5 separate regions of the Homo sapiens genome follow, and all the other regions are reported to be linked to region 1. The links are microRNA targets in miRTarBase. Many come from high-throughput screens and were not tested one by one. Region 1 holds a microRNA gene; each other region holds the end of a gene's coding sequence.

Evidence for each region. The annotated mature microRNA hsa-miR-759 reads GCAGAGUGCAAACAAUUUUGAC and lies in region 1 at 1,375-1,396, opposite strand. An mRNA with a match to its seed (bases 2 to 7 or 8) in the 3' UTR can be bound and repressed. Matches are read on the target gene's strand: a 7mer-m8 pairs with bases 2 to 8, a 7mer-A1 pairs with bases 2 to 7 and ends in A, and an 8mer does both.
Region 2: the mRNA of FAM222B is a reported target of hsa-miR-759. The part of its 3' UTR that is shown has no 7-base or 8-base seed match.
Region 3: the mRNA of FAM107B is a reported target of hsa-miR-759. Seed matches in the 3' UTR shown: 7mer-A1 at 1,241-1,247.
Region 4: miRTarBase lists PCF11 as a target of hsa-miR-759. The part of its 3' UTR that is shown has no 7-base or 8-base seed match.
Region 5: the mRNA of ZNF219 is a reported target of hsa-miR-759. Seed matches in the 3' UTR shown: 7mer-m8 at 3,217-3,223.

What each region holds. Positions count from the first base shown.
Region 1 is chr13:52,807,404-52,811,468 of GRCh38, reverse strand. It overlaps MIR759 (microRNA 759), which reads right to left and starts at 1,419; the gene lies at 1,329-1,419.
Region 2 is chr17:28,754,959-28,759,023 of GRCh38, reverse strand. FAM222B (family with sequence similarity 222 member B) reads left to right here. Exons shown (of 3, transcript NM_001077498.3): 3 at 1-3,044. The coding sequence ends at 754. Among named protein-coding and RNA genes, the nearest start is that of TRAF4, 13 kb to the right of the region's middle.
Region 3 is chr10:14,517,509-14,521,573 of GRCh38, forward strand. It overlaps FAM107B (family with sequence similarity 107 member B), which reads right to left. Exons shown (of 5, transcript NM_031453.4): 5 at 1,049-3,798. The coding sequence ends at 3,682. Among named protein-coding and RNA genes, the nearest start is that of MIR1265, 83 kb to the left of the region's middle. RefSeq lists an enhancer at 2,130-2,645.
Region 4 is chr11:83,184,241-83,188,305 of GRCh38, forward strand. PCF11 (PCF11 cleavage and polyadenylation factor subunit) reads left to right here. Exons shown (of 16, transcript NM_001346413.3): 16 at 439-1,554. The coding sequence ends at 654. ANKRD42-DT (ANKRD42 divergent transcript) reads right to left here. Exons shown (of 3, transcript NR_149009.1): 3 at 251-613. PCF11-AS1 (PCF11 antisense RNA 1) reads right to left here and starts at 3,244. Exons shown (of 1, transcript NR_133914.1): 1 at 1,281-3,244.
Region 5 is chr14:21,087,039-21,091,103 of GRCh38, forward strand. ZNF219 (zinc finger protein 219) reads right to left here. Exons shown (of 5, transcript NM_016423.3): 5 at 3,039-4,065. The coding sequence ends at 3,498. ARHGEF40 (Rho guanine nucleotide exchange factor 40) reads left to right here. Exons shown (of 24, transcript NM_018071.5): 20 at 1-67; 21 at 282-425; 22 at 930-1,060; 23 at 1,792-1,838; 24 at 1,976-3,210. The coding sequence ends at 1,833. Among named protein-coding and RNA genes, the nearest start is that of ZNF219, 9.6 kb to the right of the region's middle. RefSeq lists enhancers at 1-291, 292-834, 587-736, 3,241-4,065.

The DNA.
Region 1 (4,065 bases):
AGAATAGCTCATTGACTAATTGGCCCCTTGAGTTAACAAATGGTTGCTATTTTGATGACTGAGTTTTTTTTATCTGTAACAACTTTTTTTACTCCGTTCAGTTCAACATACATTTATTGGGCAAGCAACAATGCTGGATATTGGGCAAGGCAAGGAAGGATAGAGAAGTTGGGGAACAAAGATAAATAATATGCAGTCTGTTGCCTCCAGAAACATAAAGCCTATTTGCATAAATAACTGATTTAATTATAAGGCAAATGGAATTTGATACTATAAAGGAGGCAAAGATATGCGAAGGCAGAGGAAGAAATAATGAGTGTTATAAAAGGTAATCAAAAGGGGCAAGAGGCAGGGAATTACAAGGCTTCATGAAGGAGGCAGCCTCTGAGCTAGGCCATGTAGAATGCATACAATGTCAATAGGTGAAGGAGAAAAGAGAATTCTAGGCAGAGGGAACAGGACAGAAAAGACACAGATGGAAGTAGAAAGGCTATGAGTGACTAAGTTGGAAGTGTAGGTTGAGGTCAGGTTGTGAAGGACCTTGAATTGAGTTCTGCAGGCAGTAAGGAGTCACCAAAGATTTTTGAGTAAGGGAGCCAAGTGCTCCCCTGCCAGCCTGAAACAACTGGGTTACTTCTAAGAAGCAATGAACTATTAGCTGATGTAAATCATGCTATTTGGGGGCCTCTTTGCTGCATCAGCTTAGCCTTACCCTAACCAATAAAAAGGCCCTCATTTTACAAATGAGGAACCTGAAGCTTAGAGGAGACAAGTGACTTAACCAGCATCATGTTACCATAACTCTACCACGTAGAACCAGGGCCAGACAGGAAATCTGGGCCTAGATATTCCATAGCCCCAAAAGATGTGATGATGGTGGCGGTGGTGGCAGTGGTGATGGTAATATGATGGTGATGATGGAGATTTTTTGTTTTCGATAAACTGGTGTTTCAAGGTTTTGTTTTTATACCTCTTCTTTACATTTTTCTATTTTTTAATGTAAAAGCATGGAACAGATTCGCCATATAATCATTTTAATCAATTTTCTGCGGTGATAACTTCCCTGCAACTTAATTGGCAAAGTTGTTTCCCAGACTAAAAGTACTATGGCATCATCTAAAAGTCACCTCAAAGAGACAGAACAATTCATTAAAAACCACTAATGTCTGCAGGGTTTAAAGATGTTAAGTGTTCATTTGGAGAATGAGAAATCAACGCACATTGACTTTTGCCATCCGGGTTTGTCACGCTCTGTGTCCGTGGGATGACTCACATTGCTAAAGCCCAAGTTTAATTAACATGCTTATTCTGTGCCGCTACTTCCATTCTAACAAATTAAATGTTTAAACAGCCAGTGCAAACATTTAGATCTGAGTCAAAATTGTTTGCACTCTGCCAGTTTAGGCATTTAATTTATTATAATCCTTTCCATAATATATACTTTGAAAGTCATTCTTTTGCACTGAAAAATATTGTTAGTATTTCAACTGATGCTATTGAATCTGAGACTATCAGAATGTGACGTGAGAACTAAATTGGACTGCAAATAAGGCCAATAAATGAGATAATAAATGAATCCTCATCTATCCTAACTTCCTCAATTGACCAAGTAATAATAATGACAGGTGCCAACTCAGGCCTGACTTTTGTCCCATAATCTCTGCTCTTGTGGAGAGATGCTATAAGATGAGACAAGGATCTTGCAAAGCTCGTAAACATTTCTTCTTAAGAGCCTTTCCTGGATTCTGACCTCTTCCTCCCTGCAGATGTTTTTTCAACATACAGAATTTTGCTAGCTTTCAACAACTTCCCCTTCCCTGGGCTAAAGAAACTGAAAATGCAATGGAAGAGAAATTATAACAAAAGCTTCATTGACGCAATGCTGACTGCACTGATAAAGATCTCAGGCAAGCAGCCAAAGAAGCTAGACAGAGAGAGGTTCCCAAGGAATGACCCTGTTTGGCCCCAGGTGACCACAAGGTGGCAGTGAAGGTCTTCTTCACCCTCCCCATTGGCACCACCCTCCCAGGCCCCGACCCCCAGGCACTGTGCCTCTTCCCCACTGTCTCCCAGGGAAACAAATGGATACACCCAGATCTAAAAAGCTGACACTTTTACATTTTTAATAAAGATAACTTGTGTTTTATTGTGAATAACATGGAAACTGGAAAATGATTGAAAATTTCCCCCAATAGCCCTTGCTTGAAGAAAATGGAGCATGGCGTTGGAACCAAGAGGAAAATATTGTAGAGTAATAGATGCTGGTCATGCAAACTCATTAGATCTCAGCTTCCTCATCTACAGAATGAGAGGTTAGGTTCCTCTCATCCCTGAGGTTTCTTCCAGTACCCTTCCAGAGACAATAGCATGGATCAAACTCATCAACCAAGGGAGAGGGGTCAGTTTCAGGAGACACCAATTGGTTTGTTACTGTGTGCTAATCAAGGTCACGTGCCACTGAAAACCTGAATGCATTCACTCTCTGATTCTTCAGGCTTCCATCTCCTGCTCAGAAATCATTCAAGGTCTTCCACAAAACATTCCAGATTGTTTATACTTTGAGATTGAATTATATAGAGTCAAGCTTGGTCAGATTTTATAATGAAGCTATATCTACCCAAAAATTGGCTGGTGAAGGAAAGGAGGAAATCGTTGAATCTAGCCAATTTGTTGTTTCTGAAAGCAATCAACTCAGATCAATCCAGCTTTGTTTGTTTTTCCAAATAATGTAGGTCATTTAGACACACGATAGGGCTTTCTCCTAGAGCCACCTCAAGGAACTACCCATTCAAAAGGGCTTTGTTAAATGAGAATGGATGCCTGCACCTCAACACACGCTCACTATTTAAATGCCAGGAGGGTTAACTGAGAAGTAACAGACAAAAGTCTTCCCACTGAATATCTATGCTGAGGCATTTTTAAATGTTTTTAATGTCTAAGGGTTGTAATTAAGTGAGGCATTAATTAGCTTTTCTAAACCACTTTTTAAAAAGTTAATCATAATTAGCATTAATTAAATACTATGTTCCAGACAATGTGTTAAGCACATTATATGTATTACCTCATCAATTCTTATTCCAACCCTATAAAGAAGGAACTGATACTTCCCCAATTTTATAGATGCAGAAACTGAGGTTTCAGGAGATGAGGTCACCTATCCAGGTTCACACGGCTGAAAACCAGGTATGCATGCCTGATTGCAAAGTCCCAGCTCTCTCTTTTTTTTTTTTTCAGACAGAGTTTCGCTCTGTCGCCCAGGCTGGAGTGTGGTGGCAGGATCTCGGCTCACTGAAAGCTCCACCTCCCAGGTTCACGCCATTCTCCTGCCTCAGCCTCCTGAGTAGCTGGGACTATAGGTGCCCGCCACCATGCCTGGCTAATTTTTTTTTTTTTTTTTTTTTTTTTTTTTTTGGATTTTTAGTAGAGACAGGGTTTCATCGTGTAAGCCAGGATGGTCTCGATCTCCTGACCTCGTGATCCACCCGCCTTGGCTTCCCAAAGTGCTGGGATTACAGGCATGAGCCACCACGCCTGGCCACAAAGGACCCAGCTCTTGAAGGAAGTTTATCCAGCCCCAATTCCGTTTTTCATGTCTTCATAATCCCCGAGGATGTTTTTTTTGTTTTATTTTGTTTTTTTGAGATGGAGTCTTGCTCTGTTGCCCAGGCTGGAGTGCAATGGGGCAATCTCAGCTCACTGCAACCTCCACCTCCCGGATTCAAGCGATTCTCCTGCCTCAGCCTCCCGAGTAGTTGGGATTACAGGCGCCCACCACCACGCCCAGCTAATTTTTGTATTTTTAGTAGAGATGGGATTTCGCCATATTGGTCAGGCTGGTCTCAAACTCCTGAACCCAGGTGATCCACCCGCGTCAGCCTCCCAAAGTGCTGGGATTACAGGCATGAGCCACCACGCCCGGCTGATTCCTCTTTTTTACTGGCACCTGTGTCAGTATTACACATTTATAAGTATTTTAATATTTCTAAAATGAGACCAACTCATCAAAAATTTGCAGAGGAAATCCCCAACTCCTTATAGTGGAAAGAGTACCAGGGTCGCTTAGGG
Region 2 (4,065 bases), not on the chromosome of region 1:
CCACAGCGTCCCCACACCAATGCCTTCATGTGTGGTCAATCCCATGGAGCACACCCACGCGGCCACCGCCGCGTTGCCTGCTGCAGGTCCTGTCAACCTGCCCACAGGCATCTCTCGCGTCCCCACTGGCTACCCTAGCGACCTCAAGCCAGTCACCTGGAACCAGCACCAGCTGGCCCACCTACAGCAGATGTGCAGCGAGGCTAGTGGGACGCCAGCCCCTGGCCTGACAGGCAAGCATGCGGCAGGACGCGAGTTGGCAGGGCCTGGCTTTGTGGGCAAGGCCCCTGCCTACCCGCAGGAACTCTGCCTGGCGCAGTCCTTCCATCTGAAGCCACCCCTGGAAAAGCCGACCCCATCCCCACCAGTCAACGGCATGGCAGCCCCATTGGCCTACCCCAATGGTCACTACTTCCAACCCCTGTGGAACAACATTCTGCCCACTCCCAATAGCGACAGCTCGGGGTCTCAGGACCTTGCCATGCCGTTCCACGGTGGGCAGCCCACAGGTGCACCCCTCGACTGTGCGGCAGCTCCCGGGGCCCACTACCGAGCAGGGACCGGGGGCGGTCCAGTGGCAAGCCAGAACAGCTTGATGCAAACAGTGGATTACCTAAGTGGGGATTTCCAACAGGCCTGCTTCCGAGAACAGAGCCTGGCCATGCTGAGCAAGGCCCACCGAGCCCCTGGCAACCGAGCCCCCGATCCCACAGAGAGTCGAAGTCTTCATATTCAGCACCCAGGGTATAGATAGGTAGCCCTGCTGCCCTCCACGTGCAACACATCATACATCACCCTCCTAGGTTTAGTCTTTTAAGTAACTGGATAGTTTCAAAGTTTCACTGCTCCAGTGTGATCATTCTTAGATGTCTAAGAAAGGGAATTTGGTGGGATCTAAGTGGGGACAGAAGGGGTCCTCTCGTCCTCCCCTCCAGCAACTTTTGGTTTTATGTTAGAACCTAACCCTAAGCCCAGGCTTTTCTCTCCACTGACTGCCTGTCAGCTAGTCTCTCCACCTTGGCCATTTCCAGCCAGCTCCCACCCATCTTTTCTTGAATCTCTTCCTGTTTCCCTTAGGACGACTGAGGTGTGGGCTGACGGAATGCCCTAGTTGAGGTAGTATAGGTGCTCAGGCCCCTAATCCAGACCTCTACCTGTTGCTACCCCCCTTCCCCTCCCTCCAGGACTAAGAAGCAAGATTTCCCAGGTGCTCTGAAAGCTAATTACTTACTCATCGAAGGATCTCAAATCAAAGCTGACCCAGTCTTCATATCCTTCAAGTTCCTTTCCATTCCTCAAGGCTTTGTTTTGTGTCTATATTGATCCCACAGCCACTGCACTTGCCCTTGCCACACTTGATCTCAAGGGCATCTTGGAAGTATTTGACCATTTCTTGAGATATGGGGGGAAAAAGTCTTTGTATTGGCATCTTGGTTCCAGACTCCCCTTTCCAAACCTAGAAAAATACAGTGACCTTTGAGCATACCCAAGATCCCTTTCTCACTGTTGCCTGTCCCCTAACTCACCTCCCCACAGCCCCTATCCTTTCCCCCTCAACAAAAACAAAATCTACCTTACTTGAGGAATTAGGTAGGTAAGGAATGATCACATTGGAGTTTGGGATTAAAAACACCAAAAAAAAAAAAATGCATTTGGTTCTCTCTACACTGGCTAAGAATATTGCTCTACACTGTAAGTTTTAAACGTTACGTTTCTGTATGAATGTAGTGTGGGTTTGAGTAGCATTGTGTGTGAGTGGCCCCACAGGTACATTCACCCTCTAGTGCAGCCCCTCAGTTTAATGAAGGAAAAAAAAACAAACACAAAGCCTTAAGCTCTTTGAGTACTTCCTTTACCAAATGAGCATGGTTCTAACACCTGGAGCTGGGCCTACATTGGAAACAAGCCCCTCCTGCCCTCTGTCCATTCTTAGAGCATACCTTCATCCACTCCATGCTCAGCACGTCTCATCCCAAGCGACAATTAGTTGGCTAGAAACACTTTTCTGTAATTTTAAACTTAGACTGTTTTGTTACAAATTTTTGCACCATTCTGTTAAAGATGCAGAATTGGGCTTTTTTATTTTTTACAGATGAAATAAGCCCTTACCTTTCCTCTTGTCTCTGGGGAATGTCAGCTGATGGTTCTTATTTAAGGTTTTGCATTTTGTTCACTATCCACTACTGTTCGTTAGCCAGAAATTCTCTAGTGATCTGAAGCAATGTGACTGAAGACCAGTTTTAAGTTATGTGTTGGCAAGTTGCCTTATATTTAAAAGGAAAAAGAAAAAAAAAAAAGCCTGATTGTGTTATGCCAAATGATAGCAACATGAAGTCCTAATTTATTGTTCCCAATTGTTTTCCTGCCGTCTGTGAACACTGGTACCTCCCTGTCCTGATCCCCCAGGAGCACCTGTAGCTTCTGACTCAATGCCTTCTCCGAAGGTGTTGGCCGCCATCTCACCCAGGGCCCTCTTCCAGTTCCTGCTTTTCTGAGTCAGATTTAAAGAGCACCACTGTCTTCCCCCTACCCCTTGCTTGATCTCCAAAGCAGATATTCTTGCTGTATTTTTTTTTCCTCCCCAATACCTCTCCCTGAAAGGTGAGCTGCTATTTTAGGAAACTGGACCAGACACCAACTTGGGGGCTTTAAGTCAAACAACCTCAAACCCATCTCTTCCTGTGTAGGGGTGCAAGCCTCTGAAGCTCTCACTCCCACCCTTAGTCTGCATGGAAAATGTACTGTGATCCCCCTGCCCCCAACTGCCCTCGCCTTTGGTGTGAGATGTTCCTTCTTTCGGAGTTCAGCCTGAGTCCCTCTCCCCTCTGCCAGCCAACCCCCAGCCAGCAATAAGGGTCCAAGCCAGGGCCTCCTCTCCACACTCCCTGTCTCCATCCTACACTACCCTAGGGAATACCTGGATTCCCCATTCTATCCACATACTGTAGCATTCATTCTCCATCTCTCTCACCTCACCTGTGGTGGTTTATGGGTGTGATGGGGTTTTTAAGATTATTATAAACCAGTAAAAATAAGAAAACCTCGCTTTCTGACCTTGTTCTATTCGTTTAGTGCTGTGAATGTTTGAGGTAACTTTTTCTTAACAGTTTCTAACATACCTCACTTCATAGGAGTAATTCCTAATTTTTAAAAGGGGTACCCCTGTAATATGCATCCCACCCAGAAGCCGTCTCCAAATCCATTATTTAAGGCCAGGTGCTATGGTGATTGTAGACAGTTCTTCAATGAAACCCTGGACACAGGGTACCCGGCTGACAGGCCCTCTCCCTGGGCAGGGCTGCTGTGGGCTTACTGTGAAGTTTGAGGATAAGTGTGGTTTGCTGTCCCTCACTGGAGGCCCAAAAGGTCCTGCCACTTGCATTCCAAGGGCCATAAGTCATTGAGAAATGGCGATCTGGTTGTTTTGTTTTGTTTGAGGCGAAGTCTTGCTCTGTCGCCCAGGCTGGAGTCCAGTGGCACGATCTCGGCTCACTGCAACCTCCACTTCCCAGGTTCAAAGGATTCTCCTGTCTCAGCCTCCTGAGTAGCTGGGATTACAGGTGCCTGCCACCACGCTCAGCTAATTTTTTGTATTATTAGTAGAGATGGGGTTTCACCATGTTGGCCAGGCTGGTCTCGAACTCCCGACCTCAAGTGATACACCTGCCTCGGCCTCCCAAAGTGCTGAGATTACAGGCGTGAACCACCATGCCCAGCCAAGAAATGGGGATCTGGTTTGCTAATAACCCAACCTAAAACTTCAAACCTGCCTTCTTCCACTTCCAACACTTTGGAAATTCTGAGGGCCTCTGACAGAGGTGAAGGTGATAGGCACTGTTATCTGCAATGTAACTGGCTCCTCTTGGTGATTACAGTTTTCTTATGTTGAATTTTGGATAACTTTATTTTTTTGTCTGCAGAGGAAAAAAAAAAAACACTAAGTGATTGCAGCCAGGCACAGTGGCTCATGCCTGTAATCCCAGCACTTTGGGAGGCCAAAGCAGGTGGATCATCTGAGGTCAGGAGTTCAAGACCAACCTGACAAACACGGGGAAACCCAGTCTC
Region 3 (4,065 bases), not on the chromosome of region 1:
TGTGATTGTTAGGCTAGCTCATAAAGATTTTATTTATCCGAAGACCCTGGAAGTAAAATACTTCATCTCTTATTATACTAGGAAATGTATGCCGGGTAGTATTATTTTAAAACTTCTTTTAGCTGTCCTACAGTATTTTAAATCTTACTAAACACTTTAATTGCCCTGTCTTCTTTCAAATCTATTACCACTACTGTAAAACACACACACACACACACACACACACACACACACACACACACAGAGAGAGAGAGAGAGAGAAAGAGAGAGAGATTGGGGAAGTGGTCGAATTAAATGGATTGACAGCCTCAACACAGTCACCGGGACAAACTGCCTAGTTATTCCAAGGATGCAGCTACTCCTCAAATGATTTTTGGAATCTATCTTCTGCACTGGCTTTAGAGTTCATGGTATAACCTTAGAGATAGTAAATTTTTACTCTCCTGAGTAGATATAATATTTTAAAAAAGTCCAAAGACACTAGAAGTTGGGTGATCAAACTGAGTAATAATTTGTAGTTGAAAAATAAAGGCATAATTATAAAGAGACTTGAACCTCCAAAGTATACCAGTAGTATAATGCAATCAGGCGTATACCTTTCCAAAGTAACTTCTTTGAGGAATAACATTAATTTACTTGAATAAGCAAAAAAAACCTCATAATCACACTTCAGACATGCCGTATGTACTGGGGTCAAACGCACTGAACAATGGCCCTTCCCAAAACATGTCTCCCACTGTCCTACCAAGCTATCTAAAATGCAGAATACTTTGAGCTGAGGACTGACTGATGGCTGCTGCTGAAGGGCCATATGGCCTACTGCAATGTGTAATTTACAGTGCCATAAATACCTGAGATGACTCTGTTTGATATGACAAACTGTCAGCTTGACTGCCACAAGGCAATAGGACATAAGTGATTTGGGGGCAAGGTTGTCAATGAGGACCAGTCATCAAAAGGGAGACCCTGGAACCAACTCTCACCTTTGAAATGAACCCAGCCCCGTTCTGTTCCAGATGCACACCTTCAACAGATCAGACAAACATGGTTGCATGGTCCAAGCATGTGGTGATTTTTATTAAGAATAACTTTGGTTCTAAGAATTCCACCCTCAATTCTTTAATACTTTCCGTTAAAAACAATTATACAAGAGCAAATACAAAAAATATTAAATTATGAAAACCAATCCATTAAGGCTCCCTTTATATATATTATATACACTCAAACAAGTCAAGATTTTTCAGAGTAGAAGAATAAAGTCGACTGTTATAGCTTAGAAAGCAACACTACTACTATGAGACTATAAAACATTAAACTATTTTAAGAAAACCACGCTGTGGAAAAATGGAGCCATTTTTGTCAAAAAGTGGCTCAAAGCACAAAACTGCTCAGATGTTCAAGAGTCCTAGGAGTTTGGGCTGCACAGTATTAAGGGGTGAGAGGAGACCGACAGCCTGTTTGAATCAGGCTTGTGAGCCCAGCTCATCTGACAACTTCAAAGAGCTTCTCTGCCTATACATTCCACCGTTTAGCATAAGACACCACTTTACGCTATTTACAAGTCTCCTTTTGGCCAGATTTTGTATTACTAATTACAAATAATTCTGCAGATTTGAGTGAGATTAGGAAAGAAATGCTTTCTTAAGTAACTTTTTTTTTTTTCAGTGAAGAATGAATTCTAGTTAAGCTCTAGGAACAGAAATGGTCCTTCTAAAGGAGCCTACCAGGGCCCCTGTGAATACGATCAAGTGGCAGAATTGCTTCGAGAATACAGATTTCAAGATCTGACATCTAGTTAGATAAAAAGATATGAGCCAGTCCCGAATCTTCATTTTACAAACAGCATCGCTAGTCCACAGACACAAAGAAAGAATTCCAGTCAACGTGCAATCAGAAATGGGCTTTTCAAGATCATCAGTCATCACACTTCCTTCTCTCAAAAGAACGATGGGAAAAAATAGTTACCATTCCATTCTTCGAAACCAAATTACTGTAGAGCAACAATTTTTCTTAAGCATTTCTCATTTTATTCAAATAATACTTGCTGATGAGATAAATAATCCATTTCAGGTATAATCAACTAACATGTTTCTCTAACTAGCAGTATATTATCATTGCATTTACTTTTGTTCCCATTCAGATTGAATATGGGCCTAATTGTCAACTGCTAACACTAAAGCATTCCCATAGAAAGCTAATTTCTACTGTGCTAATTAAGGATTCAAAAGCTCTAGATCCAGCTTTCTATGAGTCTTCAAAGAAAGTATGAGAAGTCTCTCCAATGCAGAAATGACTGGCTGAACTGTCTCTACGGAGCATACTAAATCCTCAACAATTCTTCGGTATCACCCAGGCAAAAGGTACCGATGCCCACACTAGCAGTTTAAAACTAATTTTGCATGAGAATGCGGCTGCTGTCTGTAACTCGGCCCCCTCTCTGAGGAGCGTGCTGCTAGCTAGAACAAGGGAACTCAGCAGCCCCTCCCTTCCCATCAGCTGTTCCTGAGAGATGCAATATAGTAGTCATCGACATCATCCTTATCAACAGCATCATCACTCAGACAGTGGTGAAAGTCTTTCTTCACAAGGAAAAACAAAGATAAAGAAATACATGAGCATTAATCAGAAATTTTCAAAGCTTGGATTCTAATGATATGCATTATCATTAGACATTCAAATGCTATACATCTTCTGATGAAGCCTCCTTGACAGCAGTCTACACTTATTTCACATTAGAATGCCTAGAGAAATCCTGACTGCCCAGCTGGTCATGGGAACCTTCCCCACTCTCCTCTTGGAGAAATGAAAAGATGTGGCGGCTTCTACTTTTGCTACTGAAGCTGGGTTATATGGACTAGTTCCACTCTCTAAGGGACTGGAAGGTTATTCCATCTGAAAGAACTAGATCAGCAAGACATTTAAAAACAAAACTGAACAGAAACCCTCCTAGTAATCAAAGCAATTAATGAATGGACAGGATGTACCTTCTTGGAACTGGAATGTCACTATGTAGCCTGCTATTATTACACAGAGAACCAAAAGGAATGAAAATAAAATCAAGATGGGCTTTTAAACTTCTCACCCTATTTCTAAATTAAGTGCCAACAAGGGTAGTGGCTGTGCTCGACATTCACGTTCCTTCTCTGGTGTTAACTGCAACAGGGGTGAAAGTATAAATTAAACAAGACAATTCTGGGTCCTCAAAATTTACAGTGAGTGAACAGATTAAACGCATTTCTAGGTGATCTCAATTATCTAACAGATAACAAAAAGAGGAATTAAACACTTGTTTTTTAGCTTTTAAAAGAAAAAAGGCTCTGGGTCCCACGAAACTTGGAATGGAAGAAAAACCAAGTAGTGCAACTCTCAAGAATTGATTCCAGTGTCCTCTTCCTTTTTCCTGTTCTCACTTGTTTTGCTTGTTGGTTCTGTTAAGTCTCTGAACACAGGTCCATCATTCCAACTTACGTGCGGGGCACTGCCCTTCATTTGGCGAATAGGAACTGCAACTGTCACAGGCAAGGCATCCACCCAGATCGTAGGAAAATCAAACCAAATCCTACTGCAAGTCAAAATTCTCTGCTGGCTGAAATATTCTCCAGGGGCTTTTGCCCTGAGATTGAGAAGGCACCCACAGACAGCTCTGTGGGGTGACACACGAGGTCTTGGTGCAGCCTCAGCCTAGGACTCCTGGGCTTGGGCGACTTCTTGGCCTGTTCTCCTGAGATTGCCTTTCACCTTCACAAACTCGGGGGCATTTTCTTGCTCTTCTTGCAATTTCTGCTTCTCAAGTTCAAGCTAAATGACATTCAGAAAAGGAAAAATTATTTACAAACCAAGCAGCCTTTCAAAATACTCTTCTCTCTTTTCAAAGTCCCTGACAACTTTACTTCCCCACAGAATAAATTCTCTCCTGGTCCCCCACTTTTAAAGAAATGGATGGATAGAGTCTGGGTAATTGTGCACAGAAACAGAAGCCACTTGGCTGTCACTGCAAATAGGACCACGAGATGACAAGAATTGAAAAGACAGGGCTAAGGAAACAAATCCTGGAGTCAACGCGCA
Region 4 (4,065 bases), not on the chromosome of region 1:
AATGGGTTGGAGGCAATTTGGAAGGTTTATTTAGGTTGTCAGAAGACTAGTGTTGAGGGTGATGGTTTGTGGGGATTTAAAAAATCCTCAGACTATTTGAAATTAGGGTAGTAACAAGTCCCAGGATATATGTATGAGTTTAACATCTATGTAGAGATTAAAATGTAGAAGCATGTCTAATCAACTTTTTTTGGCTGTATAATGTCCTATAACTTAGCTGTTAACTGCTTAACTCACTGCTGAGTACATATTGAACGTGCAATATATATTTTATTTCTGGTTGTCTTTATGGCACATTTTGTTGGGAGGCAGGTGTTTCATTTGCATTTGGTTGTATGTGTGTTCTCTTGTTCATACAAGGGTCTTACAAGACTAAATGTTATTTAATGTGAGAATTTTGAACTTTCATCAGTACTCATAGGGCCTTTCATTTTGTAGACATCTTCATTTGATTGTACACCATCTCCCAGCAAGACACCAGTTGAAAACCCCTTGAATATTATGTTGAACATTGTCAAAAACGAATTGCAGGAACCCTGTGACAGTCCCAAAGTTAAGGAAGAACGAATTGATACACCACCAGCTTGTACAGAGGAAAGCATAGCAACACCCTCTGAAATTAAAACAGAAAATGACACAGTCGAGTCAGTTTAAATAAAATGAGAAAGGTATGTTTTTCTTTTTTAAAAAAGCTGCTGTTGGATCTAGAAGGTGAAGAATTTTTTTATGTATATATAGACATATCTATATAAATTGTCTGGCTGAGGCAGGGCCTTCAGCTATCATTTGGTTAATAAATACATTTTAGTATTTGCATTTCCTACTGCCTGCAGAGTTTCAGGTGCTTGTTGTGTGAAAGTTCTGTAGATGTGTGCAAATTTAACGAAATGAAATTGTATGTGTAAAAATGTACGATTTTTCACTGTGCAACTGTAAATTATAAATAAAAAATATTTTTGCTATTCATGGAGTGTAATATTTATGCACACCATCAAATAGTTTCTGTACTTTTTATTGGGTAAAAATGGAATTGAACAGCAACCTCAACATAAGATTTTTTTTCTAGTAGCCTCCCACTGATTAAAGAAGCAAGTTTGAGGTTTCATCCTTCAAAAGGGGGTTCCGAGAGAGCACCGTAGGGCTTTTCTCAAATAGAAAAGCCAGATTTTGAAAAAATTTTAAAGATAAAATAGGACATATTTTGCAGATATATATATATATATACACAAACACATCTCCAGGTATAGAGAACCATCCAGATGTTCACTTTTGAAAATATCTAATGATGCAAAGTTTTATTCTTGAACTTGGACACTGATGCCATCAAACAATTAACAAATATATTTAAGTACTAAAGGTGATTTTTTTTTTAAAGACTTTTTCAAATTGTCAAATGATTTAATGCAGATGAACATATTTCTATTTTAAGTAACGGGAATCTGTAAGAATGTTTGCTTGAGATATGGTTAACTTTTTTCTTTTGTTGGTTTTGACTTAGATGGACACCATGAGATGTTAATATTCATACATGTAATAAATAGAATGATGAAGAAACTTTGTTTGTACTTCTTTATTTCTTGAAAAGCTTTAGAATGTGACTTTCTTGTTGTCTTTCATCTGTTTTTTGAAACATGAACATGGTACTTGCTATGAGCCAGGCACTCTGAGACAGGTTAGTCTTTTCTGCCATTTATTGGAGATAGGCATATAAAACACTGAGTTTTATTGAGCACATAGTATGTGGCAGGCACTAGCACTTTCTACATGTATTTTCTCTGGTATTCACATCTAATAACTACATGGTAGATGGTGTCCCCACTTTACAGATGAAATTAAGCCACTCACTTTAAAATTTTTATAAGAATTTGAACGTGGCTTTGTTTCCTCTAATTCCATACAATTTCTGCAATTTTAAAAGATACCCCCAAATTGATTGTTAGGATAGAAATAAGCACACCAAACTACTGGAAGGTGGCTAAGGAAGATTCTACAAAAGTGGTGACATTTGAGTCTTGGAGGATAACCAGGAGTGGAGTCCATACTGATGGGAAGGGTATCTTTGGAAAATGAACAGCAAATGTAAAGGCTTAAAATACTTTTGTGTTTTCAAAAATTGACTTCTTATGGTTAAAACTCAGTAGTTTTGAATAGATTATGATGAGCCATTAATTTTTTTAGTAGAAATGGAGTCTCACTACGTAGTCCAGGCTGGTTTCGAATTCCTGGGCTCAAGTGATCCTACTGCCTTGGCCTCCCAGAGTGCTGGGATTACAGGCATGAGCCACGTGCCCAGCCTTTATTTTTAAGTAGTGAAGAGCCTTCTTGGTCATGCTAAGGAATTTTTATTAAACTGATGACCAGAGCAGCCACTAGAAATTTTAAACAGGGTGACATCCTATCTGCATTTAAGCTTTTTTATTTTTTTAAGAATCAAGTGAATACAATTTTAGAGATTGCTAAATCCAGAGAGGTCCAGTGGGAAAACTGGTAGCCATTGGATTTGAGTTGTAAACACGTAACAGCTGAACTTACGTATATGAACACTGCCATAGGAACTGAGGTCTGTGAATCCAAAAATGTAGGCAAAACTTCCTGTTGAACATTTTTCTGGGGAAACCACCATAGCTTTTATCAAATGCTTAAAGGTATGGAACATTCTAAAAGGAAGGTGATATTCAAACCTAAAAGTGTATCAACGGTATCCACATGGAGAAGAGGGTCAAGGATGGGGGAACAAAGACTGGTAGGTGGGAAGGTCAAAAAGAAAATGGGAAAACCAGCAATGGGAAAATTTTTTTTTTTCTTTTTTTGAGACAGTCTTGCTATGTTGCTCAGGCTGGATCAGTGCAGTAGCACAATCTCGGCTCAGTGCAGTGGCACAATCTCGGCTCACTGCAACCTCTGCCTCCTGGGTTCAAGTGATTCTCCTGTCTCAGCCTCCCAAGTAGCTGGGATTACAGGTGCCCGCCACCACGCCTGGCTAATTTTTATATTTTGAGTAGAGGCGGGGTTTCACCACGTTGGCCAGGCTGGTCTCGAACTCCTGACCTTAAGTGATCTGCCCGTCTTGGCCTCCCAGAGTGCTGGGATTACAGGTGTGCGCAGGAAGAAAATTTCAATGGACGAGGTAGTCAACAAAATGAAGTCAAGAAAATATGTAAGACTCAGAAATACTCTAACTGTTGACCTAAGAACAGCTGAGTATGGGTGCCAACACCTGGTGCAATGGGTAGTGTGGATGAGAGGTAACAAAATATTAAAAGCTATTTTTTTAAATGAAGTTTAACTCCAGAGATTGAATTGTAGTTAGACAAATAGGAGAGGCATTAGCATGTTAAGAGGAGCTCAGTGGAGAAATGGGTTGAAGATGGAGATGACCGGTATACCAGTCTCAAGGTTGTAACAAGATAGTATCAACAATAGCACAGGAGGGGCGGGGCACAGTGGCTCATGCCTGTAATTCCAGCACTTTGGGAGGATGAAGTGGGTAGATTGCTTGAGTGTAGGAGTTCAAGACCAGCCTGGGCAACATGGTGAAACTCCGTCGCTACCAAATATATGAAAAACCAGAGGGACACTGTCTGCCAAAAAAAATAAAAGCACAGGAAGGATTTAGCTTTGGAATGGAGGTGGGCCAGTGTTCTCCAAGATGGCCACTAGTATTTACAGTTGGGTTTGAGTTCAATTCTTATTTTCTCTTTGAGGTAGAAGGCCAGATGTAAGGCAGTGATCCAGATCTGCCCCATATTTGGCTGTGCATTAGAATTATAGTGAATTTAAAACAAATTTTAATACTAAATTTAGAGATGGGGCCTTACCAGGTTGTCCAGGCTGGCCTCGAACTCCTGGGATCAAGCCAGTCTCCCACCTCAGCCTCCCAAGTAACTAGATTACAGGTGCACACCACTACACCTGGCTTAGAATTAGTGAATATTAAGAGATTCCTAATCTCTGGAGAGTCTCATTTAGTTGATTCGCATTCAGGGGCACTTCTAGTATTCAAGCTCCATAGTTTTTTCTAATGAACAGCCAGATCTGGTAAATAATTCAGAAATCAACATCAAC
Region 5 (4,065 bases), not on the chromosome of region 1:
AATAAACCCTTCCTGGACATCAAAGCCCTTGGGGAGCGGACGCTGAGTGCCCTGCTCACTGGAAGAGGTGAGGGCCAGGGTGCTGGGGGGTGGCCCCCAGGAGTGAAGACCTTGACAATGAGGATACAAAGGGGAGGTATGGTGGAAAGTCAGGAAAGGCATCTCGTCCCCAAATCAGTGGGACTGGCTGGGAGGCCCTCTGTGAGACTGAGGGTCATTCCAGGGAGCCAAGAGGGCTTTCCCACACCAGCACCCCACCCCCCACTCCCCACTCTCTGCAGCCGCCCGCACCCGGGCCTCCGTGGCCGTGTCATCCTTTGAGCATGCCGGCCCCTCCCTTCCCGGCCTTTCGCCGGGAGCCTGCTCCCTGCCTGCCCGCGTCGAGGAGGAGGCCTGGGATCTGGACGTCAAGCAAATTTCCCTGGGTGAGGCACCTCTCAAGGGGTGGCTCCCAACAGCTCGGTCATGGTGGTGATGTTCAGGCTGCTTGCTGCTGAGCAATTCCTTTTTCTAGCCAAGAAGCCCAGTTGCCATGACAACTATGTACAGCTTCCCCACCGCTAAAAGAGCCTTCCATCTGGTTGCTAGGGTGATGCTTACAACAGCCTGTTGCTAAGAAGCACTTCCTCTGTACCTCTCTCTCTAGCTCTTCTTGGGTTTCTATGGAAACTGCCTCAGCTTCCTGTTGTACCCTCCTGGTTCACCACGGCAATCCTTATAGTTTCCTGTCGCTTCTTCCCTGGTTGCTCTAATGATGCTGCTGACAATTTCCTGCCTCTTGGTAGGGGGTTCCCTTGCAACTGGATCGCTATGGTGACTCACAGCTTCCTGTTGCTATGGAGCTTTTTCTTCCCTGATGGAGCAGCTTGGTTGCTTAAGGTAATCTGGAGGGATTCTGTACTCTGCTCTCACCCTAGCTTCCCCTTCAGCCCCAGAAACACTTGACTCTTCTGGAGATGTGTCCCCAGGACCAAGAAACAGCCCCAGCCTGCAACCCCCCCACCCTGGGAGCAGCACTCCCACCCTGGCCAGTCGAGGGATCTTAGGGCTATCCCGACAGGTAAGTTCCTACAACGAGGCTGGGAACAATGTGATCTCTTTGGCTGCTTTCTGGATGGGCTTTTCTGATCATTCAACCCCAGGGGGGTTGGGGGAAAACTGTGAACTTGTGCTCCCAGCTGAGGCTACAGTCTGGATTTATTATCTTGTCTACCTTTCTCCTCTCCCCGGGACCTGGCTAAGAGGCATCAAGGTCATAGGTTAAAAGGAATCTTAAATAAGGAGTATAGTGCTGGGGTGGATGGAAAGGGGAGAATGCCAATGGCCTGGCTTGGACTTGGGTTAAAATGGCAAAACTCAGGCCAGGTAAGGTGGCTCATACCTGTAATCCCAGACTTTCAGAGGCTGAGGTGGGAGGATCACTTGAGCCCAGGAATTCAAGACCAGCCTGGGCAACATAGTGAGACTCCATCTCTACAAAAAAAAAAAAATTAAATTAGCCGGACTTTTGAGGGGTGCGCACCTATAGTCCCAGCTACTCGAGAGGCTGAAGCAGGAGGATCTCTTGAGCCCAGGAGGTTGAGACTTCAGTGAGCCATGTTTGTGCCACTGCACTCCAACCTGGGCAACAGTGAGCACCTGTCTCTAAAAAAATAAAAGTAAATAGCAAAATTCAAGGATTTTGGGTAGGAAAGAGAGGTGAATTGACAGGCTTGTGGGGAGGAATGGAGGAAAAGAGAGAGAAAGACAAGAAATATGTCCCTAAATTCACTGTAGCTTCTCTCCCCCCAGAGTCATGCTCGAGCCCTGAGTGACCCCACCACGCCTCTGTGACCTGGGTGAGTCAGCATCCCCAATTTCTACCACATCCAGCACTCCTACCATCTTGCATGTACCTTCCTTCCTGTCCCCGGCTACTTGGGAGTCAGCTTCTTCCCTCTCCCAACTCATCTCCCTCTTCTCTCCTGGCTTCTAGAGAAGATCCAGAACTTGCGTGCAGCTTCTCCTCTCAGCACACTTTGGGCTGGGATGGCAGTGGGGCATAATGGAGCCCTGGGCGATCGCTGAATTTCTTCCCTCTGCTTCCTGGACACAGAGGAGGTCTAACGACCAGAGTATTGCCCTGCCACCACTATCTCTAGTCTCCCTAGCTTGGTGCCTTCTCCTGCAGGAGTCAGAGCAGCCACATTGCTTGCCTTCATACCCTGGAGGTGGGGAAGTTATCCCTCTTCCGGTGCTTTCCCATCCTGGGCCACTGTATCCAGGACATCACTCCCATGCCAGCCCTCCCTGGCAGCCCATGTTCTCCTCTTTTCTCACCCCCTGACTTTCCCTGAGAAGAATCATCTCTGCCAGGTCAACTGGAGTCCCTGGTGACTCCATTCTGAGGTGTCACAAGCAATGAAGCTATGCAAACAATAGGAGGGTGTGACAGGGGAACCGTAGACTTTATATATGTAATTACTGTTATTATAATACTATTGTTATATTAAATGTATTTACTCACACTTTGCCTCTAAGGAGCTAGAGTAGTCCTCTGGATTAAGGTGATAAATAACTTGAGCACTTTCCCTCAACCAGCCCTTAACTAGAACACAGAAAATAAAACCAAGACTGGAAGGTCCCCTCTACCCCTCCCAGGCCCAGAGCTAGCTGACTGTGTATGAGCCTGGGAGAATGTGTCTCCTCCACAGTGGCTCCCAGAGGTTCCACACACTCTCTGAAGCTCCTTCTCCCACACTGCACCTACTCCTTGAGGCTGAACTGGTCACAGACAAACTGGGATCCAGCACAGTCCAGCAGTTCTCAAAATGAGGTCCTCAGGCCACAGTGCGTGAGAACTTGCTTGGCTGTTTGTTAAATGCTAATTCTTGGGCCCCATCAGAGCTACTGCATCGAAACCTGGGGGTAAAACCCAATATTCTGCATTTCTTATCAAACTCTTTGGGTGATAACTAAGTGTCTGAAGAGGTGACTATTTCCTGACAGAAGGACCCAAAGAGGGAAGCAGGACATAGGTAGGCAGACAGACACAGGGCCCTGTGCCTCAAGACACCTGTTTATTGGGGACACGACTCTGCAATAGGGATGACAGGAATCGTACCAAAAATAGCGACGTCTACAGGGCCCCTGATGGGGCTAGAAGGGTACAGTGCCCCCCACCCTCACCCCTTGTACAAAAATAAACTCTCACGCCTATGGACCAGCAAAGACTGGCAGAGTGGCTCCTCAACAGGGACACAAACCTTCTCTGCCAGCCCAGGGACCCCGTTCTTTGACCCTCACCTCTGCCACTTCTAAGGCACTGTGACTCCCTTGGGCTGGGTGGGTACCGCCAGCCCACCCTCCTACGCCCGCCGCGCCTTCCACCTCTGGTCCGCCTGGGGCTGGGATATGGGTCCCACGCTGCCCCCTGCTGGCTTCTCTACCCAACTACCTCTAGCGCTCCCCCGCTCCGGCGGGGTAAGCTCACTAAGCTAATCGCCCCTGAGGGCCCACTACCGTTCTTGCCCCCCCAGCCCTGCCTCTCCGGGTCTGGACAGCCCGGAGCCCTCCTCCCCTTCCTGCGAAGGACTGGGAGGGGTCTCTCCTGATGGTACTCGGGCATAGGGCGGGGACGCGTCAGCCTGGGGTGGCCGGCGGCCCCTAGCCCGGCGGCTGTGGTGCACTTGAAGGTGCAAGGCCATGAGCTCTGGGGCTCCAGTGGCGAACGGGCAGAAGAGGCAGCGGTGGAGGGCACCCCCAGGCCCGGCCTCGCCTCCCGGCCCTGCCCGCAAGGACAGGTCCAGGGGTTCGGCCTCACCGCCTCGCCCGTTGCGCAGGGTCCTCCCAGGGCTGGCGGGCTTCCGACGGGACCCCGGCCCAGCACCGCTAGAAGGAGGCCGGGGACTTGAGGCGCCCTCCACCCAGGTCGCAGGCTGCGGAGACGGCTTGGCTCCAGATTGCGGGGCCGAACCCCGCTGGGAAGGAGGCGGTGGCTCCGGGGGTGGCCCGGGGCCGGCCCCGCTCCTCTGCTCCCGGTGGTGGCGCTGTAGGTGATACTTGAGCGAGCCGGACTGGGTGCCC